Regions from separate parts of the Homo sapiens genome. Here regions 1 and 2 are each linked to region 3. The links come from fine-mapping of genetic effects on gene expression. A gene starts in region 3. Each other region holds a variant in brackets. All regions are shown on one strand. Distances are from middle to middle.

Evidence for each region. PIP is the estimated chance that this variant, and not a neighbour inherited with it, causes the effect.
Region 1: its variant is fine-mapped to the expression of CEP97 in whole blood (INTERVAL, PIP 0.96).
Region 2: its variant is fine-mapped to the expression of CEP97 in whole blood (GTEx, PIP above 0.99).

What each region holds. Positions count from the first base shown.
Region 1 is chr3:101,759,593-101,763,730 of GRCh38, forward strand. It overlaps CEP97 (centrosomal protein 97), which reads left to right. Exons shown (of 11, transcript NM_024548.4): 10 at 2,893-2,968. Among named protein-coding and RNA genes, the nearest start is that of NXPE3, 18 kb to the right of the region's middle. The variant C/T (reference allele first, on the strand shown) is at 1,720.
Region 2 is chr3:101,827,278-101,831,415 of GRCh38, forward strand. It overlaps NXPE3 (neurexophilin and PC-esterase domain family member 3), which reads left to right. Exons shown (of 8, transcript NM_145037.4): 8 at 1-954. It also overlaps a transcript of NFKBIZ not described here. Among named protein-coding and RNA genes, the nearest start is that of NFKBIZ, 20 kb to the right of the region's middle. RefSeq lists enhancers at 388-437, 588-767, 2,210-2,269. The variant T/TG (reference allele first, on the strand shown) is at 2,601.
Region 3 is chr3:101,722,110-101,726,247 of GRCh38, forward strand. CEP97 (centrosomal protein 97) reads left to right here and starts at 2,505. Exons shown (of 11, transcript NM_024548.4): 1 at 2,505-2,610. The coding sequence starts at 2,568. RefSeq lists enhancers at 285-344, 2,481-2,850, 3,131-3,200, 3,372-3,983.

The sequences.
Region 1 (4,138 bases), 37 kb after region 3:
GACCAAGACCCCAGGTGTATAAAGATATTCTTTTTCAGTCAGGATATTCCAAGGGCTTGGAGATTATCTCCCAGGAGTCAGTCAAGGGCCAGTCTTATCTTTGCAATGTACAGTGTTTGAACATCCCCATCCTGCTGAGTTAACTCTTTACTGCACAGTGACCTTCCCAAGAGCAGCTTCAGTGGTGTAGAGGGATGAAGGCCATTTTGGAATGGGTTGAATAGTGAATGAGAGGTAAAGAGTTTGAAGGATGAGTGTAGCCAATTCTTGGAAAGAGTTGTTTTGAGGAAAACAAGAGAAAAGAGAGTTAAGTGGTGTCTGGAGGAGAATCTAGATTAAAGGAACATTCTCTTTTGTAGATGAGAGATATAGAGTTTGTTCATGTGTTGATGGAATGAATAAATAAGGAGGGAAAAACTGATGGTGCAGCAAAAAAAAAAAAAAAAAAAAAAAAGAGGAAGAGCAGGATTGCAGTTCTTGAGAAGGTAAGAGAGGAAGAAATGTAGTGTCGAAGTAGAGGAAGTGGCCTGAAATGGGAGCAGGAGCAGGTAAGGTGGTAGGTTTGATGGTGGGAGATGGGAAAAAGTCCTGTCTGATGCTGCTTCTTTTTCAATAATGTATAAGATGTGGTCAACACCTGAAAATGAGGAGAGGGTGAAGGAGGTGTAAGGAGAGAAGTATGAGGTGTGAGGTAGTTATCTTAAACATGACCTTATGAGGAAAATGGAGGAGGGTTGCTGGACAATGTGAGAAAATGCTTAAAAGTGCAAAACAATAGGTCAGGTTGTATGATTTTCATCAGCAATTCTTAGCTGCTCTGGTCTGATTCAGGCATGGTTAATTTGGTTCAGCCAGGAATGATTTTTTTTCCTAGGTGATATTGTAGAGAGAGCAGGGGAAGGGCAAGAGAGCTGAAGATATTTGAGAGGGAGTAATAATGATAGATCTTAGATTTTATATGTTTTTTGAGATGGGGTCTTGCCCTCTTGCTGAGGCTGGAGTGTAGTGGCGTGATCATAGCTCACTGTAATCTTGAACTCCTGGGTTCAAGTGATTCTCCCACTTGAGGCTCCCAAGTAGCTGGGACTATAGGCATGCACCACCATGCCCAGCTAATTAAAAAAAATTTTTTTAAAGAGATGAAGTCTATGTTGCCCATCTGGTCTTGAACTCCTGGCCTCAAGCAGTCCTCCTGCCTCAGCCTCCTAAAGTTCTGGGATTACAGGTGTGAATTACCTTGCTGACTGGAATTTTATTTTTATTTTTTATCTAAAAAAATTTTTTTTTGAGATGGAGTCTTGCTCTTGTCACCCAGGCTGGAGTGCAATGGTGCGATCTCAGCTCATTGCAACCTCTGCCTCCCAGGTTCAGGTGATCCTCCTGCCTCAGCCTCCCGAGTAGCTGGGATTACAGGCACCTGCCACATGCCCAGCTAATTTTTTTTTTGCATTTTTAGTAAAGACAGGGTTTCACCATGTAGGCCAGGCTGGTCTCAAACTCCTGACCTCAGGTGATCCTCCTGCCTGGGCCTCCCAAAGTGCTGGGATTACAGGTGTGAGCCACTGTGCCCAGGCTGGCTGGAATTTTAAATGAGGTAAAAGGGAAGTGAAGGCAGGGGGGAAGGATCATTGGACTGAAGGTCTAGATTGTTGCAGTGGGGTACAACAGCAAGTGAACTGGGAGGATAGGAAGTAGTGGTTGGTGTTGGGTGCTTAGAAC[C/T]ATTTCTGAAAGTAGTGTAGTCAAAATGATTTGGTCTAGGGTGAGACTATGAGAATGGGTGACTGACATGGGGTGGATTATTGTTAGAGCATCCATGTGAATGTTGAGGTCTCCAAAAACGATGACAGGTATGGGGCAAAGAGAAAGCCTGGTGCTGAGACTTCATTGAATGGGAGCAGATGGTGGGAGGTCAGTACTTGACAACGAATTTTGGGAAATTTAGCAGGATGGCAGGAGTTAAAGGAGGGAGATGAAGAATCATTTGAAAACAATAGTGAGAAGCAATTTTTGAACCCTGATGTGTGACAGGGAAAAATAGCTTCCACTTCAGAGGGCTATAGTGCTCTCAGAAGTGGGTCTGCTTTGGACAAGGAAAAGTTCAGAGAGAGATGGAGTATATAAGGGAGTTTGCTAATTATAATTCAGGAGTTCTAGATGGCACAGGAGAAAGGCTTGGGGGGCTAGAGAAAGTGGAGAATTGGGTCAGAGGTGTGGAACAAAATGGTCTTGACAGTTTGGGTGATAATGGATCACTAAAGGAGGAGCCTTAGGTTTGTGATAGGCCTAAGTATGGAGAGAACAGCAGTGAGCCCAGACCTCAGACTTTGATGAATGAATGAGGAATAATGGATGGGAGGTCTCTTGTTAGCAAGGAGTAGGTCGGAGACCTGGGGAAACAGAATAGTGAAGTTTGATGGGATTAGTCTTTAGCAGAGGGTGTTTCAAGCTGGATCACGAGTACTTAAATGTGACCCTTAATTGTTTTGGAGGCTTTGGATAGCCACTCCTTTTTTGCACTTTCTGTTCCTTTGGTTTGTTTGGCTGAGAAATTGAAGCCAGACAAAGAGCCATTTAACATTTTATTTTATTTCTTATTACTGGAAATACTTTGTAGAACTAATACCTGTATTTCAGTCATATCTCCTTTGGCTTCTACTTTGAGTCACAGTTCAAAATTAAGGTTTATGATGTCACTTATAAAACTGTTCCATTTTGATTCTGAGGTTAAAAAAATAAAAATAAAATAAGGTTTTAATTTAGATATTCTAAAAGTGGGAAAGACAACTATTAGATTATTAATCTCTTTACAATGCATGTGTTTATGAGTTGTAACAGGAAGTCTGAGTCAAAGCACCCTTCCTTATGTCAATAATGTGTTTTGAATTATTGTAGATTACGAAAAGAAAGAGATGAAGAACGTATTAAAAAATTTGTACAAGAAGAAGCTTTCAGATTCCTTTGGAACCAGGTAAACTCCCTCCTGCTGATTTACCTCATATATGATCAAATACAGATTCTATATTCATTGAGATAATCATAGAGTACTCAGGTGTATTAAGCACTCTTGTTCAAGGTTAAGGGTATGGCTTGTGTTCTTCGCCACTAACTGTGAACTAGGACAGTGAATTTTCTTGCATTTTATTTAATCTGAAGAAAAATATTCTGACAATTTTGACAAGAAAAACAAAATAGTATAAAGCAGGAGGAAAGTGGCTTAACTGAAGGCTGTTAGAGCTTTCCAATAGATACAACAACCCCAATTTGAAATTTCATGTAGCTATCGATCTGTCTTTTGGGAATATTTGAATGAATTGTGATTAAGATGGTATATGACTACAATATGCATGTCCTAAAAAGTATTCATAACTGTATAGGAGAGTATTTGAATCCTATAATAGCACACTTTAGGGACAGTTTAGGCAGTTGGTTTTACTAGCATTGTATCACATCAAATACTTCTTGATGATAATTTCTTGAAAATATTTTAATAAAATTTTCATTTCTTCTTTTTTATAGAAATGGGGTCTTGCCATATTGCCCAGGCCGGTCTCAAACTTCTGGGCTCAAGCAGTCTTCCCTCCTCAGCCTCCCAAAGTGAGCCACATCACCTGGCCAAATTTGTTATAATAGGATTTGACCTATAAAATGAAAAAATAATTATTGATTTGTAAAGTTTTGTAGTTACCAACAATAGAGGAATGGTTAAATTATAGAATAATAATACTGTGGAATACCATGGAATAGTTAAAAAAAATAAGGTAATGGTATTCACCAACATGGAAAGATCTCCAAAATAATACTGTTTAGTAAAAAAAAAAAACAGCACTAGCGCATTACAGCCTTGAACTCCTCAAGTGATCCTTCTGCTGCAACCTCCCAAGCAGCTGGGACTACAGGCACACACCAGTGTGCTCAGCTTCCCTGTATATTTGAAAATACGACCTAGAAAAAAGTCTGGAAGGATATGCATCAAGTTGCTGTCAGTAATTACCTTGGGCGGGGGGTCAAAGGGAAACTAAAAACTGTACATACTGCTTTCTTGTTTGCAGTTTTTACAGTAAAATTTTGGAATTTTTGTTATACTTTAGAAATTAGGGGTCATATTATCAAGAATTTGGTATGTTTTTAGGTATTTTAG
Region 2 (4,138 bases), 110 kb after region 3:
GAAACTAAATGTCATAGGAGAAATCCTTTCAGTTTTGTGCAGTGGTTCATTTGCTGTTAAATCTACCCCATTACCATTCCCCTTACTCCTTGAAAATAAAGTGATCTTCATGTTACAGGACCATTGCTTTATTTATGTCACAGATTTCTTGTCCTTTAATTAGTCAGTGAAGGCACATGATTGCGATACTACTTTTTGATTGCCGTATTGTAAAAGCTATATGGTAAAAGGTAACTCCCTCCACCCGCCCACTGCACCCTCACGTTTAGGGGCCACACAGAAAAAGCGAAATAAGATGAGGTGAATCTAATGAGAAGGCAACTCTAATGCCCATCAGGAGATTCACTAGGACATTTTAAAAGGACGTCTTTAAGGAAAAAGTTTTGTTTGTAGATGTTGCCTCTGATTCCTCCCTGCGGCTCCAGTCCAGGTCTTGGAGCCGGCCCTCGAGGGGAATGTCCGGGACTCGGGTCGGTACCTTTTTGGTCTGGGAATTTCCAGTGTGCAGAAAAAAAATCCACAAATCTAGGCCTCGCTGCCCCCTCCCTGCCTCCTCTGGCCCTCCTCAGTGCCCACGCAACCCGGTTCGAAAGAGAGGATGACCGTATTCTGCATTTTAGAAAACAGGCTCTTAGCTTCCCCCGCCCCCGTCCTCACTAGAGTGGAGAACTGAAAGCGAACGCTATAAAGGGCGCCAGTGAGAGGGGCTGGCCTCCTCTTGCCACGAGGTCAGACGGCGAGTTCTTAGAGAAAAAGGCTGCTTAGCTGCTGCTTATCATGTAACCTCAAAAGGAAACTGATCGTCTTTCTCATGCTGTCACGTACTTGGGTTATTATCGCTGATTACAGCTGGAAACAATTGATTTGCTCTTACGTATTTGTGTGACTTGACTCTTCAAACACAAAGGTATATTTTTATTATCTGATATTTTATTAAAATATCTTAAATGGTAAGATTTTTTTTTTCTTTTTCTTTCCTATTCCCATAGTCAGATTCTTAACTTTGGAGTCACTCTCCTATGTTTGAGTAGCCATACTTGCTTTGGGGCAAAATATTGGGGGATAGTTTTTTGGAGAAAGAAAATCTGGGATGTTTTTGTAGTTTAGTAATAGCAAGAATCATGTCTGTTTGCTTTAAAGGCCCAGGAAGGACTGAGATACTAATGGAGGAGATCGATAGAATGGGTGATGAAGTATCATAAATCTAATGTAACACTATCTTCTGTCAGTGACCTAGAACTATGATATCCCGAGGCAGAAGTCTCCCAGGAGATTTGATGTGTGGGTTTAGAGGAGTACTTTCCCACCAACCGTAGGCATGAAACTATATGGGAAAATATATCAGAGTAAATTGAAATACTTTATAGCATGCCCTCATTCATTCTTACAGCTGTAAAATTAAAATGTATGAATGGCCATTTTATGAATGAGGAAAACCTGAAATTTGATGATTTGGCTGGACCCCCAGATTCATGATAATCTGTATATGTTAAGGGGTTTTGTTTGAATAAAAGCACATTTCTAAATAGAATGGATTAGAGATTCTCTTCATTGGGATTAGTGAATTCGCTGCAGTGGCTGAAGGTGCTGTCCCAAAGAGGATGACAGTTACGTAAATTTTAAGCATTTGGTAATATATATTTCCTCTATTTAAATCTGACATCTAAAGAAATATCTGGCTGGGTGGAATATTTTTTTGCTTCTGTTAGACAGTAGGTTGTTTAGACAATAAAAGGAGAGAAAAGTTTATCCTAGTCTCATTCACCACCCCGCATAATCCCTGATGGAGCAGGGCATCAGCCACACAGATCATCTAAACAGGCAGATAACCCTGCCTGTTTATTTATTTGGCCTCAGAATACGGTGTATGGTCCACCACCCCTCTCCACCGTCTTTCTAACATCATCCTGCTGAGGCCAAAGACACAGTTGGGCAGGGTACAGGCGTGGAGCACTGCGGTGGCAGAGTCAGTCTGAGAGGAGTTAGCACATGACATCAGTGCACAGTGCAGATGACGGAAACATTTGGCAGCATCCTCTCCAGTGTGGAGGTGATGACCGAGGTCAGCATAATCCAGCTGTTCAGATACAGACTTTTCCTCACTGAGGAAGAGGAGGCAAACCCTTCTCTTTCTTGTCCTGTAACAGACAAGACAAGAAAGCTCTCAGAGAGCAAAACAAACCCTTTCAGAAGCTACAGAGCCATGGAAAGCATTACTGAGGGGAAAGATTTTCTAATTGTTCTGAGACCAATAATGAATTGCTCCTGAAAACACCATTTTCTTTTGGCTCATAGCTGACACTGATCTGGAGGCCTCTTGATTTTTTTCTCCCAGGTTAACAGGAAGATCTCGAGGGCCCTGGCTGAACTTCACCTTTTGGCTTTCTTGGCCTGATGCTGAACTCTCGAGGGTGAGAAGGGCTGATATTTCTAAACAAGTAGCATCCAGGTGTTACCTAGCTTCTGGCTGATGTCAAAAAGGGCAGTGGGATTTTTCTAAGATTTTTCTCTTAAATTAGACATTTTTTTGAAGTTGCTACAAAATTACTATGAATTTTATTTATAGGCATTTTACTGTGATTTCATGAGAACTAAGATTT[T/TG]TTGTGTGTGTGTGTGTGTGTGTGGTTTAGTAGTATTTTTTTAAACCAATTTGTTGAATTTCTGCTATTTTCCATAGCAAGAGGACATATGAATACATCTAAGAGGGGAATTCAGCTCTCTGCTTACTGACAGTTTCAGGGTTATGTAATCTTTAACAGGCTTGGAGAGCATCATGCCCCCTCTCAGTTTTGGTGAAGAGGCTCCTTAAAACTAGCATATGTGGTTTCTGATTAAAGCACTTTCTGTTCCTTTAATTTGGGATTGTCTGTGAAGTAAAATACCTTCCTTTCAACCGTAGGGAATGAAAATATTTACTGCCGCTGATGGAGTTAGTGGATTGGGAATTAACACTTATTAAACACTTGTTTTGGGAGCTTACCAGCAAGATCTCATTTAGCCCTACAGCATTTTTTAGGTAGCTGTAATTAGCTTTATTTTATTTATTTATTTTTGTAACTTCAACTTTTATTTTAGATTCAGGGGGTGCATGTATAGGTTTGTTACCTGGGTGTATTGCGTGATGTTGAGGTTTGGGGTACAACTGATCCCATCACCCAGGTACTGATCATAGTTATTTTTCAGCCCTTGCTTTCCTCCCTCTCTCCCCCATCTAGCAGTCCTCAGTGTCTTTGTTGCCATCTTTATGTCCTTGAGTATCCAATGTTTAGCTCCCACTTAAAAATGAGAACATGTGGTATTTGGTTTTCTGTTCCTGTGTTAATTCACTTGGGATAATGGCCTCCAGCTGCATCCATGTTGCTGCAAAGGACATGATTCTATTCTTTTTTATGGCTGTGTAGATTTCCACAGTGTATACGTACCACATTTCCTTTATCTAGTCCACTGTTGATGGGCATCTAGGTTGATTCCATGTCTTTGCTATTGTAAGTAAGTGCTGCAGTGAACATACAGGTGCATGTGTCTTTTTGATAGAATGGGAAATATAACCACGACAAATGGTGAATTCTGTCATGGTTATATTAAACAATAATCACAATGCTACATTCTCTATACATGATACCAAATATCTGAATTAAACTTATCAAAATACTGTTAATTACCTAGATGTTATATCTATAAAATGCCAACCTCCAGATATTTGGAGACATTAAAAATGATTTTTTCACTGTTTGTTCAGATATTTAGCAACATGCAGGCACTTTTAATATTGGTAGAAGACTTTTGGATATGTTTTAGCATTGAGTAGTTTATGTGCATCCCCATTCCTCTGATTGTTTCAGTCAAGTTTGCTAGACAGCCTAGTACTGTGAATCTGTAGAGGGTCTAATACTGTAAATCATGCGTTCTTAGAGAGGGTGATATTATCTCCAAGAGGGCAAAAATAGGTTCTTCAGGGAAAAATCTTAGCTATTACAATAGTTTGTGGCCCCCAAAGGGCCATAGTACATAATAGATATACAGTATATCTGTGATATTAAACTTTCATCAGGGGATGATTAGGAAAAAGATGTCTAAAAAGACCCTGTAGTGGGGTCTAATACTGAAAGAAAGGTTGAGACATGTCATTGTAAATGCT
Region 3 (4,138 bases):
AAACCCCTGACCTCAGGTGATCCTCCCGCCTCGGCCTCCCAAAGTGCTGGGATTACAGGCGTGAGCCACCGCGCCCGGCCTTACTTTGTTCTTACACATATAGTAAGATTGTGTTCTCTAGGTAAGGAGTTTCTTGGTTAAAAGGAAAAAAATCCTAGTCTTAATTGCCCCTTCAGAACTAGGAAATTTGTCTTTAGACCAAAGCAGCAGGAAACAAGAATCGAAAGGAGTTAAAACAAGTGTAGAGAGATAGGAGAACCCAGGAAAGGGGGAATGCTCAGAGAATCCAGTGCCTGGAAATCTAGAAGCATGAATTACTAGATTTTCCCAAGCAAAAATGATCAGACTTTGCAGATTGCTGTTTCAGAAAGAGGGGAGTTCAGAATAAAGGTTGCAAGAGGAAGTGGGAGAGCTGGTAGTAGAAAGCAGAAGTTTTTTGTATACTCTGTTTAGTTTCTCACTTCCTGTGAGCACAACTTCGTTACCACCTGCAGCCTGTGCTGTCTTTTCACCTTTTACTTTAGAACTAACTGTTCAGTCTACCCATCAAAAGATGGGTACATTTACTTCCTCCATCAAGTCTTCACTGAAGATTTCAGATTCTATTTCTTTCTCAATTCCCTGAAATATTAGTGAGCTCAGTCACAATCACACCGTTTAGCATATAATAGTTGCATCAAAAGAAGGCTCGGCGCCGTTGCTCACGCTTGTAATCCCAGCACTTTGCCGGGCTGAGGCAGAAGGATCACTTGAGCTCAGGAGTTCAAGGCCAGCCTGGGCAAAAAAAAATTGTCTCTAAAAAAAAAAAAAGAAAAAAGTGTGAGCCTGCTTTCTTCCAACTAGGCAATGTATTTCTTGAATTTGGAGACTATATAAAAATATATTTATATACATAATCTATATTTATATATAAATATATAACATATATAATATATAATATATAAATATATAACATATATAATATATAATATATAAATCTATAACATATATAATATATAATATATAACATATATAATATATAATATATAATATATATAACATATATAATATATAATATATAACATATATAACACATATAATATATAAATATATAACATATATAATATATAACATATAACATATATAATATATAAATATATAACATATATAATATATAATATATAAATATATAACATATATAATATATAATATATAAATATATAACATATATAATATATAATATATAAATATATAACATATATAATATATAATATATAAATATATAACATATATAATATATAAATGTATAACATATATAATATATAAATATATAACATATAACATATATATCTAAATATATAACATATATAATATATAATATCTAAATATATAACATATATAATATATAATATCTAAATATATGACATATATAATATATAATATCTAAATATATAACATATATAATATATAATATATAAATATATGACATATATAATATATCTAAATATATAACATATATAATATATAATATCTAAATATATAACATATATAATATATAATATCTAAATATATAACATATAATATATAATATCTAAATATATAACATATATAATATATAATTTATATATAATTATAATATATGCAATATCTATATAAAATATATATATTTTTGAGACATAGTTTCGCTCTTGTTGCCCAGGCTGGAGTGCAGTGGCATGATATCGGCTCACTGCAACCTCTGCCTCCCGGGTTCAAGCGATTCTCCTGCCTCAGCCTCCCGAGTACCTGGGATTACAGGCATGCGCCGCCACGCCAGGCTAATTTTTTTGTATTTTTACTACAGACGGGGTTTCTCCATGTTGGCCAGGCGGGTCTCGAATTCCCGACCTCAGGTGATCAGCCTGCGTTGACCTCCCAAAGTGCTGGGATTACAGACGTGAACCACTGCGCCCGGCCTGGAGATTATATTTTAAAGTTATTTTGAATACTCCCTGGAAAAGTTCTTGGTTCATACTTATACCCGTAAGTCAAAAGATTTGTCAAATATTCAAGAACAATCAAACAATCACTTAAAAATACTGTATAAAAGTTTCTATTTCGGCATACTTTACTTTTACTTAACTAAAATTTCAAATAAAATGTATCCACTTTTATGATCTCAACAAGATCGGTCATTCCTATAGCGGAGTTGAAAACTTTCAACTTATTCACAATTATCAAAAGAATGGAGCAGCCCCCACAGAGACTTCCAGCAATGAGTTGTAAAATGCAGTCTGCATTAAGTAGCTTCCTTACAATCATCCCGATGGTAAAAGTGTCAAATTTCGCAAACGCCTGGACAAGGAAGTGAAATGATCATCTAATAACGCAGTTGACTCATCTGTCAAATAAGCGAGTGGGCCAGGGTCCCTGAGCTCACTACCCTCAGATTCTAACTCCAGCTTCACATCATTAGGCGTAAGCAGCCAATTGGGCCGTCTGGGAGCCGTGCATCCTGGGAGTTATAGTTTCCGGCTCCCTCCTTCAGATTACAAGCTCCACAGAGCCGCGGGAGGACGGTTGCCTGGTATTATTAGCAAGCAGCAAATATGGCGGTGGCGCGCGTGGACGCGGCTTTGCCTCCCGGAGAAGGTAAGGCGATCCCTACCCCGAGTCCTAAGGTTTACTTCACGGAGCTGAATTAAATAGTGGAGAGCAGAAAACCTAGGTTTAGATGTGCAGTTCTGGACCAGTTCTTTTGATGCGGATCTGTGGTCGTCGCGGAGGCGGGCTACCCTCTGGGAGTTGTAGTTCACCTGCCGTTCCCAGCTCTCCGGCGTCGCGGTGAGGGCCGAGCGGGGGACTACAGCCCCCAGAAGCCTTCGCGCGGCCCGGCGCCCTGGCTCCCGCGCTCCCGATGCTGAGGAGGCGGTGGATTTCGGGCTGCGATGACCTTTCTTGACCATTTACTTTGAGTCATGGGTGCCTAAGCGAAATGTTTGGGATCTCCCTCTTTCGCTTCACACATCTCCCTCTCTTCTTGGTTCCTGGAACCATCAGGAAAACCTTCCCTCAGAGACCGCTGCCTAGTCTGGCTTTGAACCCTTCCTCGGAGGTGGCCAGTGGCCGTGATAAAATCTAAGGGATGATCCAGAGCCCGCAGTTCTGTACTCCTTGTTCTTGCACACGGGTCCTAGGATCGAGTTTGGTCGCTGCCCAGTAGAGCACAGGACTGTGTGGGTGCTTCTGTGGCCTGAAGATACCTACCTCTTTGGGGCGCCGGACGCGAGCTGCTTTTGTTTTGGTTACAGCTCCGAGGCTTGGCAGCAGTCAGTCCTCTAAATCGGGGACAGGGCCCAGGGGTCGAGGCCCGTCTTCATGGCTTAGACCAGGAGTGCATTTTCTGGGAGCTGTAAATTCTTGGGGGAAGAGTTGGTGGATGGTTCTCAGACCTCTCTGTCGACCCCTTGGAATTGTGTACAAAGGCTGTGCACTTTTCTGAGACAGCACACCCCTTTCATCAATTTTTCAGAGGGGCTCACGACTCCTCACATGCTAAGAGCCATTAGACAACGGGAAAACGTTGAAATCCTCCAGGAGAGCAATCTGGCATAATTATTTCCTGCAGTAGTCCTAATCTGGGTGTAAATTTGAAATTGGCCGTTTCTCTGGCCCCGCCCTCTTTGGAGATCGGCTTTTCTTAAACCACACCTCTCAAGCCCACCAGGGCTACTTAACTGTTAATAGCAGTTAACATTTACAGAGCACTTTGTATGACCCAGGCGATGTTCTCAGTCCTTTTTTTTTTTGTTTTTTTTTTTACATTATCTCATTTTCTCTGTAGAACTACATTTATAAGGCAGGTATTATCCCCACTTTACAGAGTAGAAAAGGGAGCCCAAAAGAAATCAATAATTTGCCTAATATACCACAATGGTTAATTGGTGGAGCCAGGGTTTGAACGTCTATGTTATACTAAAGTGCCTTATTGAGTGCCCGGTGGCAGGAACGGGGCTAAGTACTATTCATATGGTTTCTCTTTTAATTCTCATATCAAGCTAGGGAAATGGGTGTATTATCCTATTTTATGGGAGAATTAGTTGAACTATACTTTGATTTTCAAAATCACAGTTTGGGCACTTTAGGATATATTGGTAGTTAGGCTGTAAGCTGGTGGATT